2 separate regions of the Homo sapiens genome follow, and region 2 is linked to region 1. A link means that fine-mapping ties the variant in region 1 to the expression of a gene that starts in the linked region. Tissue or cell type: whole blood. Region 1 holds a variant in brackets; the other region holds the start of a gene. All regions are shown on one strand. Distances are from middle to middle.

What was found. PIP is the estimated chance that this variant, and not a neighbour inherited with it, causes the effect.
Region 2: it holds the start of SWINGN, and the variant in region 1 is fine-mapped to the expression of SWINGN in whole blood (TOPMed, PIP above 0.99).

What each region holds. Positions count from the first base shown.
Region 1 is chr13:113,961,596-113,969,595 of GRCh38, reverse strand. It overlaps C13orf46 (chromosome 13 open reading frame 46), which reads left to right. Exons shown (of 7, transcript NM_001365455.2): 3 at 836-1,001; 4 at 1,082-1,129; 5 at 2,208-2,255; 6 at 4,602-4,669. Among named protein-coding and RNA genes, the nearest start is that of C13orf46, 8.5 kb to the left of the region's middle. The variant TCAC/C (reference allele first, on the strand shown) is at 3,189.
Region 2 is chr13:113,924,836-113,932,997 of GRCh38, reverse strand. SWINGN (SWI/SNF complex interacting GAS6 enhancer non-coding RNA) reads left to right here and starts at 4,007. Exons shown (of 1, transcript NR_047495.1): 1 at 4,007-6,484. It also overlaps a transcript of C13orf46 not described here. RefSeq lists an enhancer at 1,992-2,061.

The sequences.
Region 1 (8,000 bases):
ACCAGCACCATGGCAAGGCACGGGCCAAGTCCCCCTTATTTACAAATGGCTCCCGTTGAGTGGAGACCAAGGAAGGTGTCCGGCCGCCGAAGCGGCCAAAGGTGCAATCAGTTGGTGAGAGTGAGTGTTCGTGTGTTAGACAGGATGTGTGCGGCGCCTGGAGCCTCCCACTCCGTAGAGCTCAGGGAAGCTGATGGCCTTGGTGAGGGCAGTTGAGCTGGGAAGACCACACACCTTTAGGGTGGCAAAGCTGAAAGCGTCTGCTCACGTTGGCCAAGTCAGTCAATACCCTCGGCCAAGTCAACGCCATTGCAGATGGTGGCGGAGCCCCTGTCATCCTCACTGCCTGTTGCATTCCTCTTGCCCCTGGCCACACACCATAGCAGACCACAGAAGGGGTCACGAGGTTGGTGCGAGTAACAGCAGGGCCAACCGTGGACCCTCCAGCCTACTGGCCAGCATGGCCCATTTGGTATCCACATGGAGTGTGGATCTGCGACAGGGTGGCTGCATCTTCTCATCAGATTTTGGTTCTTTGAGCAAGGTTAGACCCTGCTTTCCAAAATAAGCCCAGGTTGGCTGTAATCCCAGTCCAGACCCTGGCTGTACAGGGTAAGTTTTCCAGGCAAGATGGGCCAGCAGAGGGAGCCAGGAGGGCCAGGCTGTGGGGCCCTTCAGAGCCAGAACTCTGTGCTGGGTCAGGGCACCTCATAGGTGCCCACCAGACCCCAGGGGCACCAGCCTCAAGCCCAAGGAGACAGACCCAGAGGAGACCAGGAGCTGCCCGCAGCTATCTGCCGTCTCTTCCAAACCACTTTCCCTGCTCCTCCCGCAGTCAGAAAAACCTAGCACAAGACAAGAAGGAAAGCTTCAGCACCCTTGGGAAGCTGGGTCATGAGAGTGGAAAACAAGACCCAGAGAGGGAGAAGAGCGACTTGGAGGCCAGCATGCAGGAGGTGCAGGAAGGCGAGCACGCAGACGGAGGCTTGCAGGAGGCCAAGGTTGGGCCACGCTGAGGAGCGGTGCATTTTTTCCTCTTGCCTTGGAGCCCGGCCTTCACTTAACCTCTTTGGTCTTACAGGAACAGGAGGCAGAGTCCATAAAGCTAAATGACCTTCAGGAAGAAGAGGTAAGAGCTTTTCCCTTTAGTAATAGAAGTGAGAAGGGAGGCCTGTCCAGGCGGGAGTTCTGCCGGAGCCTGGACCTGCCCGGGACGGTGGCCTGGGGGTCAGCTCAGCAGGCGCCAGGCTGTGAAGCTGGACTGACTGGGCCCCTGCTACCCTAGAGAGGCTTGGGGCCAAGCTCTGAGACTCTTTACCCGATCCCAGGGCAGCCTGACCCCTGCTTGCCAAACGTGCAGTCACTAAAGGTGTATGAGGCCCTGAGAGGAGGTGCCCTCAGCTTGACCTTGGCCCAGAAAACACCCAGAGCCCCAGGCTTGATGTGTTGTCCAGGGACACGTCATGCTGTGGGGGTTCTCACGTGGCACCGTGTGAAGGAAAGTGGCTTTTGTTCTCCCTCCAAGCTGTGTGGTGGGGACGGTAACACAACCAGACACGCTGCTTGCCAGGCGGGCCTTGCTTTCATTCCAGGGCTCTTGGGAAGTCCTTCACCCACCCCCAGACACTGCCCTTGGAGTTGACTCAAATGCTCCCATCAGACACACGTTCTGGGCTGGCCCAGGTGCCCCGTTGGAGGCCTTGGGACAGCAAAACCCTGAGCCGCTGAAGCCGTTCACATCCCGGGGGGGGTCTCCTGCTCCTTGGTGTGGAGTGTGGCCCACAGGCAGGCTGTGGGGCAGGAGTGCTGCCTTGTCGAGCAGGGCTGGGGTGGGAGCAGCCCGGCTCCCCAAGATCTGGGCATTGCCCCATCTCCTGGAGGCCCGAGTTCTCAGAGGATGAGGTTGGAGGAGACCCTCTGGGGTCTCAGGGCCCTGATGGGAGGTGAGTAGGGAGGGGTGAGAAAGCCATATCCCTCCTACATCCTTCTCCTACATGGGCACCTCACAGTCCATACTGCCGTCAGCTCTGCCCAGCGTCCCAGGAGCCCTCGTTCAGCATTGCCAGGATCTGGGGACCTGATGGTCATCACCAGGGTCTGCCCCGGCTGCCCCAAGGGCCAGGGGCCACTGTTCCTCCCAGGGAATCAACGTTCCTCTCCAGCTCACCCAAGCCTGCCATCCACACCTCTGTGGTTTCCATTCGCAGAAAGCATCTGTGTTTGTGGAGATTGATCTGGGAGACCATGCTGAGGAGGTAAAAATGGAAAACCGCAAGACAAGCAGAGCCAAAGCCACCAGGAAAGCGCCTGTGCTGCCTGGCAGGGCCAGCCTGGGAGGCTTTTCTGGGAACTTACCCCACAATAGCCATGTGTTGGATAGGGAGGCAGAGACCTGGGGCCAGCAGCTCCAGGAGAGCTCCCTGGTGTTGAGGATTGGTCTAGCCTCTTCCTTACCCTCCCACACTCCAACTCACGCACACTTCAGCACTATCAGAGACTCTGGGGCCTGGGTTAACCTTCAAGGTGCCCATGGGTCCTCAGAACCTCTTGTGGGGGATCACGTTGGGATGGTGAAAAGGGCACAGGCCTGGAAGCTCAGAGACTGGGCTTTGGTGGATGTGTGGTTCTGTCAGTAAATGCTCAAAACAACTCATCATACTTCCCTGTGCCTCAGTTGTCTCCTCTATAAAGTAGGAATCATATTAGTACCCGCATTCCAGGGTTGTCTGGGAAAGCTCTCAGAGCAGTGCCTCACACCCAGGAAAGCTTATCATCATCATCATGGGGTATCATCATCATCATCACCACCATTACTATCCTCAGCATCAACACCATCATTATATCACAACCATCATCATCATCACCACCAGCAACATCATCCCCATAAACATTATCACCATCATCATTAATATCACCATCATTATCACATCACCACCATCATTCCCATCAGCAGCATCATCATCATCATCACTATCATGACCATCATCACTGTCACCATCATCATCACCATCACCACTATCACTATCACCATCATCGTCACTATTACCATCACCATTATTACCATCATCACCTTCACCATCATCACCACCATTATAATCACCATCACCATCATCATCACCATTATAATCATCACCACCGTCATCATCACCATTAATACCATCACCATCATTATCACATCATCATCATCA[TCAC/C]CATCATTAATACCATCACCATCATCATCATCACCATCATTAATATCATCACCGTCATTATCACATCACCACCATCATTCCCATCACCAGCATCATCATCACCATCACTATCATGACCATCATCACCACCATCACTGTCACCATCATCATCACCATCACCACTATCGCTATCCCCATCATCACCACCATTATAATCACCATCATCATGACCATCATCACCATCATCATCATCACCATCACCACTATCACCGTCACCATTGTCATCATCACCATTATAATCACCATCATCACCATCATCATCATCACCATCATTAATACCATCATCACATCACCACCATCATTCCCATCACCAGCATCATCATCACCATCACTATCATGACCATCATCACCACCATCATCATCATCACCACTATCACTGTCACCATCATCACCAACATTATAATCACCATCACCATCATCATCACCATCATAATCATCATCATTGTCACCATCACCATCGCCATCATCACCATCACCATTACCACCATCATCACCATCACCATCATCACCACCATCACCATCATCACCATCACCATTATCACCATCATCACCTTCACCATCATCACCACCATTATAATTACCATCATCACCATCACCATCATCACCATCACCATCATCACCATCATCACCTTCACCATCATCACCACCATTATAATCACCATCACCATTGTCACCATCATCATCACCATCACCATTATAATCACCATCATCATTGTCACAATCATCATCACTGTCATCATCACCACCATCACCAGTATAGTCACCGTCATCATCACCACCATTATAATCATCATCATCACCATCGTCATCACCATCAACATTATCACCACCATAATCATCATCCTTATCTGTAAGAAGAAGAGGCTGACTTAATGACCTGTCTGGGCACTTCCAACACTAACATCTGGGGTGTGTTCCTCCATGTCTTTGCTGTAGTGAACAGTCATCATTCTGGAAGTTTATTGAAGTTCTTTCTTGGCAAGTTTAAGCTCCTTCCTGGGGGTCAGTTATTTTCCAGACTGTACCTTCTCTCCCTTTTGCCCTCAGAGCCACAGAGAGAGCTGGTTGTTAACCCCCAACAAGGCTATTCTTGGGGCACATGAGTTCTAAGGACTCAAGGAGGGCCAGTCAGTGGCACAGTTGGGCTGACAGGCCAGACCTGGTCTTCAGTCCAGGAGCCAGGCCTCATCAAGGGTGCAGTTCCTTGGTCAGGTTCCCCTAACTGGAAATGTCCAGTCAATAGAGAGCCCTGTCTGATGGGAGGTCATCCAGCCTCTGTGCCCTAGCCTGATCCTCCAGCAGGTCCACAGGCTATGCCTCAGTGCCCGTGGCTGACACCTCCCATCCCTTAAATGTCTCCACTCCCCACAGGTGGTCACCGATGCCAAGAAGGAAGAGAAGCCGTCCCAGATGGATGTGGAAGATCTGTCAGAAGACGAGTGAGTGATGCTTGTGGGCTCACACTAGGTGGGGGTAGGAGGACTTTCCCCCCACCACGGTCTCTGGTGTGCCCACCATGCCTTGTGTGTGGTGGGCAGAGCCGAGCCCAGGCGGTCCCCCCTTCTCCCTGGGCACTGCCGAGGCTCAGCACCTGCCGAGCCTGAGGGACTGAGGGCAGGGAACAGGACATCGGACCTTCGAAGGGCTCAGGGACGAGCTTCACGATGCCCCACCTCACCCCATAACCAGGCCGTGTCTCCTACCCACCAGCCAGGAAAAGGACCTGATGAGAAGGGGGAAGAGGAGGGAGAGTAGGGAGGAAGGAGGGGGGAGAGGTGATAAGTGCATGGTACTGACTTCTCCTGTTTAGGTTTTAGCTGCAGACTTGGGTCCTGCAGGTAGTGGGAAGCCGTGCATACACGGCTGGTGTCACAGCCAAGCAGGCTTCTCTCACAACAAGCCTCGGGCCCTGGGGCCGGGGCTAGGCAGCCTCCGAAGAGATGATCCGTGTCCCCAGGCTGGATGCTGTGTAGGTCCAGGGAAGCCCCAAGACTCCCCGAGGCCCGAGGCCCTGAAGATGGGTGTGGGGAGAGAAGACACTGGCCCATTGAAGGGGGCCCATGGATCTATAGTGTTTTATTTTAAGCAACACACAAAAATACAAAAAGCAATTGTCCAAATGCCTACCACTCAGAATTAACAGTTTATCAGTATTTTGATTTCTTACAGATTTTTTTAAAGGATGAATTGTTCTATCGGCTTTATAAAACAGTCACATGATACTAAACCTTCTTTCAGCCTGTAATCCCAGCACTTTGGGAGGTTGAGGTGGGCAGATCATGAGGTCAGGAGATCGAGACCATCCTGGCCAACATGGTGAAACCCTGTGTTTACCAAAATACAAAAAATTAGCTGGGCGTGGTGACAGGTGCCTGTAGTTCCAGCTACTAGGGAGGCCGAGGCAGGAGAATCGCTTGAACCCAGGAGGCGGAGGTTGCGGTGAACCGAGATAGCACCACTGCACTCCAGCCTGGGTGACAAGAGCGAAACTCCATCTCAAACAAACAAACAACAGTTACATTAACATTTTAACCAGTCATTTACAATAACGGGAATTATGTGGAATAGCACAACAGAGAGAAATGTTTAAAAATCACCCCAGCTTCCACCTCTTAAAAGCACATGGGAGCACCTGACTTTCGACACTGAGGACAGTGGCTGCAGCTGAGGCTGAGGACAGGGGCCGTGGCTGAGGACAGGGGCAAGGCTGAGGACGGGCGAGGCTGAGGAGAGGGGGCTGTGGCTGAGGACAAGGACTGCGGCTGAGGACAGGGGCCGAGGCTGAGGACAGGGGCGAGGCTGAGGACTGGAGCGAGGGCTGAGGACAGGGGTGAGGCTGAGGACAGGGGCGAGGCTGAGGACAGGGGCCGAGGCTGAGGACGGGCTGAGGCTGAGGACAGGGGTGAAGCTGAGGACAGGGGCCGAGGCTGAGGACAGGGCCGAGGCTGAGGACAGGGGCGAGGCTGAGGACAGGGGCGAGGCTGAGGACGGGAGAGGCTGAGGACGGGCCGAGGCTGAGGACGGGGCGAGGGCTGAGGACAGGGACCGAGGCTGAGGACAGGGGTGAAGCTGAGGACAGGGGCCGAGGCTGAGGACAGGGCCGAGGCTGAGGACAGGGGCGAGGCTGAGGACAGGGGCCGAGGCTGAGGACAGGGGCAAGGCTGAGGACGGGCTGAGGCTGAGGATAGCGGGGAGGCTGAGGACAGGGGCTGCAGCTGTACCTGCCAAGCGGCATCCTTGCCCAGGGCCAGCTTTGAGAGCTGCAGCCCTCGGCCCCCGACTGGTCTGGCTTTGCTGACGGATTGCTGCTGTGATGATGACAGCCCTACCTGCGCTACCTGCTCTCAGATTTTTATGTCTCCAGGGAGAGAGAAAGTCCTCGAGAACATTGCACTCTGCCCCAACTCAGCAGAGTCTCTGCCTCTTTTGACTCCTACCGTAACCAGGTCACACCAGCTTTCACTAGGACATTGGGGTTGTTTTGACTCCTGAGTCTGGGCTTAAAATGGGCAGGTATTTTCCAAGTACAGCTCTATTTTTCTCATCGTTTCCTGATGATGGATTTGGCACTCGGCACACAGCTCGATGGCTGTTTTCTGCCCCAAGCTGGACAATCCTGGGTCGAAATCTCCTGGTCTCAGCCTCCATCCCCCTTGACTCAGCTATCCCAGAAAACCTGCCCAGTGGGGCTGCTGGTGGCGTGCAGTGGGGAGAGCTGCCAGCAGAAACGAGCTGACGTGGCTTCTTAGGTTTGCTACCTCATCTCACAAATTCCCCCTTTGGATCACCATCCAGTTGCATTTACAAGACCCAATGCTGATTTCCCAATACCGGGAGGTTCCCGCCCAGGAAGGCCGAGAGTCCTCAGCCGTGGCTGTAATGAATGGGCATCAGCTCACGTGCACACTTGCGTGTTCATTGGAAAATGCTTTGGCAGGCTCCATCTCTTTTTTTGTTTTTGAGACACAGTCTCACTCTGTTGCCCAGGCTGGAGTGCAGTGGCACCATCTCGGCTCACTGCAAGCTCCGCCCCCCAGGTTCACGCCATTCTCCTGCCTCAGCCTCCTGAGTAGCTGGGACTACAGGCGCCCACCACCACGCCCAGCTAGATTTTTTTTGTATTTTTAGTAGAGCCAGGGTTTCGCCGTGTTAGCCAGGATGGTCTCGATCTCCTGACCTCAGGATCCACCTGCCTCAGCCTCCCGATGTGCTGGGATTACAGGCGTGAGCCACCGCACCCAGCCTCCATCTCTTTTTTAATTAGCATGATCTGGATTTTCTTTTTCCTAGTGTTGCCTTTTCCTGTACCTGCCCAACACAATACATCCCCAGGACTGTTACAGGGAAACCACAGATCACGCAGAGCACTGCACACTTCATAGCATCAGAGGGGCCACAGATCACGCAGAGCTCTGCACACTTCATAGTTCCAGAGTAGCCACAGATCACACATAGCTCTGCACAGTTCATAGTTCCAGAGTAGCCACAGATCATGGAGAGCACTGCACACTTTATAGCATCAGAGGGGCCACAGATCACGCACAGCTCTGCACACTTCATAGTTCCAGAGTAGCCACAGATCACACAGAGCACACAGAGCACTGCACACTTCACAGCATCACAGTAACTACAGATTGGAAAAAAAATGGATAACCAGTGAACAAAACTGGAACCACTTTTGTATATTATGTCATTAATTGTGCTCTTAATATTTCCCACCTTTTTGTACCCATATTTATTACAGTCCTTTCCACAAAAAGCAGTTTTGGA
Region 2 (8,162 bases), 37 kb after region 1:
AGCTACTCAGGAGACTGAGGCATGAAAATTGATTGAACCTGGGAAGTGGAGGTTACAGAGAGCCAAGACCACGCCACTGCACTCCAGTGTGGCTGACAGAGCGAGACTCCATCTCAAAAAAAAAAATTGTAATAGGTCATAAATCTAAATGTGTGAACTAAAACAGTAAAACTTGTAAGAAGAAGATAAGATAAAATCATGGTGACTTTTAGTTTGGGAAAGGTTTTTTAAATAGAACACAAAAAGTTCAAACTACATGAAAAAACCAATAAGCTAAATTTTATTAATTTAAAACTTTTGCCCTTTAAGAGACACTATAAAGAGGCAAGCTGCCAAGCTGGAGAAATTATTTGCAAACCATGTTCAAAAAGGACTTCTTTCTAAAACATGTCAAGAAGCCTTTCAACACAATAATGAGACAAAACAATTCAATTAAAAAGTAGGCAAAATATTTGAATGGATATTTCACCAAAGAAGCTATATTAACAGACAGAAGCACGCAAGACGATGCTGACAACCATTTAGTCCTTAGGGAAGTGCAAACGAAGACCAGTATGAGAGGTGCCTACAAACCCACCAGCATGGCTAACATGTTCAAAAGTGGCCCTGCCAAGGGCTGGCGAGGATGTGGGGCAACTGGAGCGCGCAGCATGTTGGCAGGATCATAACACAAGAACCACAGGGAACGGTTCGGCCATTTCTTAAAAAGCTACACAGAGTCACCATGTGACCCAGACATGTCTGTTCTGGGAACGTCCACAGAAAGACTGTGTCGTAAACGTTCACAACAACCTTGCCTGTAATCACCAAAATCCAAAACAACCTGAACGTCCTCCACGGGTCAGTGGATGAACCAATTATGATACACCCATGCAACTAGTGCTCCCCAGCATTGAAAGGATGAATTGTTGGATGAATCTCAAAATAATTACACTGTGAGACAATGTCAGGCAATAAGAGTATACACGCTGTGTTACCCAGGACAGAAATGAATTAATCTACAGTGACAGAAAGGTCAGTGTCATCAGAGGAGCAGGAGGGTGGAGGGACGGGGCAGGGGCCAGCCTGGGGGAGGGGATGTCCATGGTCTCGATTGTGGTCATGGCTCTGTGGGTGCAGCAGAATGTCAAAACTTATCAAACCGTACGTCTTAAATATGGGCATTTAATTGCATGTCAAAAAAATCTAAACAAAGCTGAAAATGGACAAAATACCACAACCAATGACATCTGACCGTAAAGAGATGGATTTAGGTAGAAGGAAGAATTCTTTAACACAGAATATGGGTCTCTGAGGGAAATGTTATCTCGTAATTTTCTCACTTTTGGTGTATTTAAGCTGTAGGACAAGGAGTGAACCCTAACATTTGGTGAGAGTCTGTGAAACACACTAGGAACCCCCATGCTGCTTGCGAGTTACTTCCGAGAAACAGCAGAATGTCACACCCTGTCACCCGCAGGTGCCGTCTGAGGGGCGCTCATCCCCACCAGCCCGAGGGCCTCCCCGCCAAGGGAGGGGTGTACTCCCTTCCACTTGGCGTCTGCTTGTGCATTGCCCCTCCCTGAACTCAAGACCTGAGCCTCTCTCGCCTGGACTATTTGGAAAGTCTACAAATGGAAGAAGGGGTGCTCTCACTGAGTTGTGTCCGCACAAGGGAAACTGTCCAGGAGCCACAGAAGCAACCGCAAAGTGAGCCTCTCAGACGTGGTTAAAGGGAAGCCAGGCAAAAAGACTGCACGCTGTTGGGTTTCATTTACTCAAAACCCTAAAACAGGCAGAATGAGTCATCTGTGGTAAACCAGCATTGGGGTTACCTCTGGGGGCCGGGAGGGAACCCTGGGGTGCCAGTCACGTCTGGCGTCTCGGCCTGGGTGGTGGGGATGGCTCGCCAAGCCTGTTTGTTGCACACGTGGCATGTCAGCAGAAACACGGGGCAAATACACACGTGAACACAAGAACCCCGGGTCCCTCCCTCATCTACCCAGCGACCCTCAGTCACCCCAGCCGGCTCCCTCTCGCCACCCACGGGCTTTCTGTGGAGGCCCCAGCCTGGCCCTGGAGGCCGTGACCCACCCCGCCTCTTGCCTGAGGTCAGCCCAAGAGACCTTCCTGTCTTCGGCCTGGAGAAGGAGCGGCCGCCAGGACCACCCGGGCCTCAGCTCCCTGGGAGGGCCCCTGGAGGACCGGGGCTGCTAAAGTCCACGGGCATCACCGCATCTAATCCAGGCCCTTTGATGTGGGTGATGTTGATACTCCCACTTTACAGGTGGGGAAACCAAGGCTTCAGCTTCCGTGGCCAGGGGATGAATGGGAGTGTGGTCTGGATGGTGGCTCCTGGACCGGAAGCATGATGGGAGCCATGAGGAATGCAGGTTCTTGGGTCCTTCCAGCTCTGCTGGATTGGATGCTCGTGGGGGCTCAGGGTCAACACAACCCCCCAGGACTCTGACCTGGGAAGTGGAGCAGCCTGATTTGGAGGCGAGGACACACCAGGAGGCACCTTGCCCTGTGGCCACTGCACTGAGGCTTGAGAGATCACTAGAGACAGCTCAGCCTCAGTGCTCCCGCGCCCCCGCCTCGGTGCTCCTGCGCCCCCGCCTCGGTGCTCCTGCGCCCCCGCCTCGGTGCTCCTGCGCCCCCACCTCGGTGCTCCTCCACTCCCACCCCGGTGCTCCTTCCACCTCTGCCTCACCCGATGGACTGTGCCTTTGCGTTTCTTGTGCACAAATCCTGCTGAAGTCTGGGCAGCTGTGTGTTTGATGATGGGCTTGTAGGAGAGAAGCATCTGGACTGCGCCGTGCAGATGGCGCTTCTCTCCAGGCACAGTCACATTCCTGGGAGGTTCCTGGAGGCCTCCGAGCCTCGTGCAGACCCAAGGCTGCCTCACCACCATGGCCACAGCCCAGTGCTGGCTGCCGGGCATCAAATCTGCAGAAATGCACGTGGCATAAAAGCACCAGAGACATCCGTCCAGAGCCGAGGGCTCCTCCCTGGCCCAACATTTTGTCCACGTAAGTCCACTTTTTGGCTGCTGCTCCCAGGCCTGGCAAGAACGCAGATCCCCACAGCCTCCTGCTCCCTGGCAGCCTGAGGACAGTGTCGTAGGCCTGGGATCCTCGGGCAGAACTGAATGCAGCTTTTCCATTGGAGGGCGCTGGGCCCACATGGCAATCACAGGTATGGCAGATGAACTCACGGGATGCTCCGGGACTCCAGGGGCCTCAGGAGAAAGGCCCACTGGCAGCGGGTTGCCCAGGGCTCCAGAGGGGGGCTCCAATGTGAACCAGTTGCTTGTGGCACAGCGGGTCACCCAGGATGGCCCTGCGTGGTCAGTGATAACAGGCAGTCACTCACAGCGCGACTTCACCCATGGTCACTCCCGGTGACCAGCACTGCACAGCCTGGGCTTTCGTCCCACATGGCACCTCCCTGTCCAGCCTTGGCCCAAGTGCCTGGGAAACAGACAGGGCACCGTGTGCCTGAACACACTCGGACAGTCGAGGCCCCCAGGAGAAGCAACAGGCAATGACTCGGTCCCCAAGAAGCTGAGCCTGTCCTTGCTGGGGTCTGTCATCTCCTCTTAGCCCCGCCAGGCTCCTGAAGCTGCCACATGTGCAGCGGGAGGTGGGTGGTTTGGGAGCAGAGCGAGGCTCTGGATGGACGGGCTTTACCACCAGCAGCCACCACCACCTGCTCTGCAGGGCCTGGGCCAGCCCTGAGGAGGTGGCAGACGGAAGGAGGGGCAGCACTGCCTCAGGTCTCCTTTACTGTCTTCCAGACATCAGCTCAGGGAGAGTAGGCATGTAGCACTGAGAAACAGGGTTGCTCCCCATGGCTGCCTCTGCTTCCCTGCCGCACAGTGTCTGTACACGGCCTGGGGACCTGCGAGGCCAGACCGCAGGGCAGGGGCCCACGGCTGTGCCAGCTTCTCTCCCAGGCCGTGGCGGTTATTACCTCCTGACTTGGCAGAGCATCCGGCTACTGGAGCCCATTGGTTCCGGCCAGTGCAGTCAGGACTTAGCTTCCCAGCTGTGATCTAAATCCCAGCCTCCCAAAGGCACAGCGCCTAAGTTCTCCCCTGCCAAGCTCACAGCCTTCTCCTTGGCAGGCTGCCCTTTCTCCTGCTGGACCAAACCAAGGAGCACGGTGACCCAGGGACACCACACTCGGTGTCAGCCTCTGAGGCCATGGAGCCACGCAGACCCAGCACAGGATTAGAAACAGACCTTCCCGGGAGGCAGAGAGCCAGGCCTCCTGGTTTATAGCATGACAAGGCAGCACTCAGGAGGACGCATCAATCCTTCTCCATGTCAGCACCTGTGACTGTGACCACTGGTGAGGTGGACATGCTTCTTTTTCCATTTTACAGATGAGGAAACTGAGGCCAAGGGAGGGTCAGCAGCCTGCCCTGGGCTGACTGGTGATGCAGCGAGGGTGGGGTGTGGGAGGGTGGCGGCGGCCCTTGCAGTCCCTGGGAACCTGCACCTCTTCCTGGGCGCTGTTCCCCTCTCTCTCCCAGGACCCTTGGGCCTGGCGTTTCTTCACCTGCGACCATCCAGGAGCTGGACCTGCCCTAGGGCGTCAGTTTCCAGGGAAGCCTCTGGCCTGTGTGTGAGCCTCCCCACCTGCCCGGCCACGGCCTCCACAGGCGCCCTGCGCAGCCCCGCCCCTCCTGGGGCAAAGGCTTTGCGAAGACTTTCTTCTCTGGCTCATCCCTTTAAGGAGGCATAAAAACGAACCCCGGGCCTCACAGGTCCGGAATGCGCCCCCCTCCACGATGGGAGCTTCTTGGCCTTGGCTGTGCAGGGGCCGCGGCTCCTGGGGGTCTGGCCGGATCTGCAGTAGTGCTGAATGAGCTGTGGCCAGGAAGACGCAATGAATAATTGTCACTTAAAAGGATAAACAGAAATTCCATTTCCCTTTTAAATACTTGAACATTTCAAAACATCTGGAGGACGCGATGCTTTTCCTTCCAAGCATCTCCGTGGAGTTTTGTGGGTTACCGCAGAGGATCGGCAGCATTCCTCTCTCAGGGAAAACTGGCCTGAGCATTGCATAACGCAGGCAGACTGCACCCCTCACGTCGCCTGGGGCCACATGCACATGTTTCCAAGAGACTTGCTGGAGAATCTTCCCCGGATCTTGACAAAGTTGGACATGGAAAGCACGTTGGTCCATCCAAGGTCCACAGAGCGACCCTGGCTATGAAAAATCATCCTCCGAGTGGGAGTCTGTCTGCCAGGAGTGAGGTGACACCGCACATGGCCTCAGGAGCTGGAAACGCTGGTGAATTCAGATGCAGCCAAAGCTTCTAACTTAGTCACAGTTATTAATTATTCTTGGTCTTATTGGAGCAGGAACCACTGCCATGCATCAGGCCAGCAAGGCTCACTCCCCACCGTAGGATCCCTGTGTAGACGGTCGCTCCATCAGTGTAGTTGGGTGTGTGGAGCAAGGGACTGGGCTGACCCTACCTTCCAAGCATCGATGTGGCCTTCAGCAGAGCAGGAGGAGATAGCCCAGGACTTGTACTTTGCAGTTGAAGTGCCAGACCTAAGAAATGCAAACCTGAGGATGGAAAGAGGGTGGAGAGGGGGGAGGTGTCTGGATTGGCCGTCCAGAGCAGCCCCAGCTGCAGCAAGTGGAACTTGGCTGGCTGCCTCACAGGCCTGGTGGCAGCGTCCCCAGCGAGGAGCCTGTCCCACATATGAAGGTCCCCATACCCTTAGCCCCTAGCTGAGAGTTTCACTGACCAGAGCTCCCTGAGTCCAGGGCTCCACTCAAGGGACTGCTGTCCCCGTTGGTGAAGAAGGCCTGTTGGGGCCAATGCTTCCCCCCACAGGGAAGCGGAGCTGTATTTTGTCGGACAGAACTTTGCAAGCCTGAAACAGCTGGTGGTGGCCCCAGAGCCAAGATCTGACCTCACTCCAGAGTTGAAGGGCACAGAGAAGGCACAGCTAGAGGCGGCAGGTACCCCTCAAAGCTCTCGGGAGAGGGTACAAAGTGGGACCTCCCAGCACCCTTGGCCTCCAGGCCTCAAAAGCCCTGAGAGGGCTGCATGCAAGGAGACAAAGCTGGAGAAGGATGTGGGAGGCAGGTGGCTAAGAAGACAGGCTGGAAAGGGACGTGGGAGGTAGGTGGCTTTGCTCTAAACAGAATCGTCTCAGTAATGTGACACTGCACATGTATAGGTAGGCTCGCTCATGGGCATAACCCTCTAAAACACACCTTTTATGGAGTGAAATTCACTTAACAGCCATCTTGAAGCATATACTTCGGCGGCATTTGCTGGATTCACGACGTTGTGCAACCTCTGCTTCTCCAGTTTCAGAACATTTCATCCCTCCAGAACAACAGCTCATCCCCATTAAGTAATCACTCCTCATTCCTTCCCCATCCTCTGGAAACCACAGATCTGCTTTCTGTCTCTATGGATTTGTCCGTTTTGGATATTTCATATAAAAGGAATCACGCGGTGTGCGAACGTTTGTGTCTCACTTCTTTCGGTGGAAGCCACATTTCCAAGCCTCATCCCAGTGGTGGCCCCTGAGTCCCCTCAGTGTATCAGTGTCTCACTTCTGTTCACAGATGCATAATATCCCACCCCAGGGACCGGGCACCATTTGTTAATCCCTTCACCTGTGGTGGACACCCGGTCGTCTCCGCCTGCCGAGACCAGCTCGGTCAGGGAGACCCTAACCCAGCGGCGCTAGAGGAATTAAAGACACACACACACACAGAAATACAGAGGTGTGGAGTGGGAAATCGGGGCTGACAGCCTTCAGAGCTGAGAGCCTTGAACAGAGATTTACCCACATATTTATTGACAGCAAGCCAGTGATAAGCATTGTTTTTATAGATTATAGATTTAAAGGCATTCTTTATGGGAAATAAAGGGATGGGCTGGAAATAAAGGGATGGGTTTGGCTGGTTACCTGCAGGAGGAGCATGCCCTTAAGGCACAGATCGCTCACGCTATTGTTTGTGGATTAAGAATGTCTTTAAGCGGTTTTCCGCCCTGAATGGGCCAGGCGTTCCTTGCCCTCATTCCGGTAAACCCACAACCTTCCAGCGTGGGCGTCATGACCATCATGAGCATGTTACAGTGCTGCAGAGATTTTGTTTATGGCCAGTTTTGGGGCCAGTTTATGGCCAGATTTTGGGGGGCCTGTTCCCAACATCCGCCTTCCAGCTGTTACGAAGGACGTAGCTACGAGCGTCTGTGTGCGCGTTTCCGAGGGAACAGGTTTTGTTTCCATGGGGCGTGTGCTTAAGGGGTAAATGCTGAGTCCCATGCTAAGTGTATGCCTAAACTTTTTCAGGAACCACCAAAGTGTTTTCTGCAGCAGCCACACCATTTTACATTCCCACTCCACATTCTCGCATTTTTCTACTTAAAAAAACTCCAGGCAGAGGGAACAGAACAGGTAAAGACCAGAGGCCCAGTAGGCGGTGCTTGGCTGGAGCTCACCAGGGGCTGGACCAGAGGACACGAGAAAGACGGGAGTGGAAGCTGATGCCCAGTGGTGGATGGCAACGAGGGCTCGGGTGGCTGGGCCGTGTCGCTTATGCAGAGGAAACGGAGATGCTTGGAAATGCTTTGCAGAGGTGAGAATATGGCTTGTTGGGAGAGCGCTTGTGTATCTGGAATTATCTGAGGCCTGGAGGAGTGACACCAGTGACAAAGCCTTTGCAGGACACCCAGGAGGCCATGGGAGTTGTCAGGTGGGACTGCCATGAGAGAGGGCTGGAGAGAAGAGGCGGGCAGAGGACACAGCCTGGGAGCATCTGCAGTCTGGGCAGAGGCGGAAGCAGCCTTCAGGGCGGTAGGTGGGAAGGAGACAGGGCAGAGAGGGTTATCCAGGACTCTGGGGAGAAGAGGCAGGTCCCAAGTTGTTTACCAAGAATTTACATTAAAATAACATAAGCTAGGCTGAGTGTTGTCACACCTGTAATCCCAGCACTTTGGGAGGCCAAGGCAGGCGGATCATTTGAGGTGAGGAGTTTGAGACCAGCCTGGCCAACATGGTGAAACCCCGTCTCTACTAAAAATACAAAAAATTATCCTGGTGTGGTGGCGTGTGCCTGTAATCCCAGCTACGCTGGAGGCTGAGGCATGAGACTCGCTTGAATCCAGGAGGCAGAGGTTGCAGTAAGCTGAG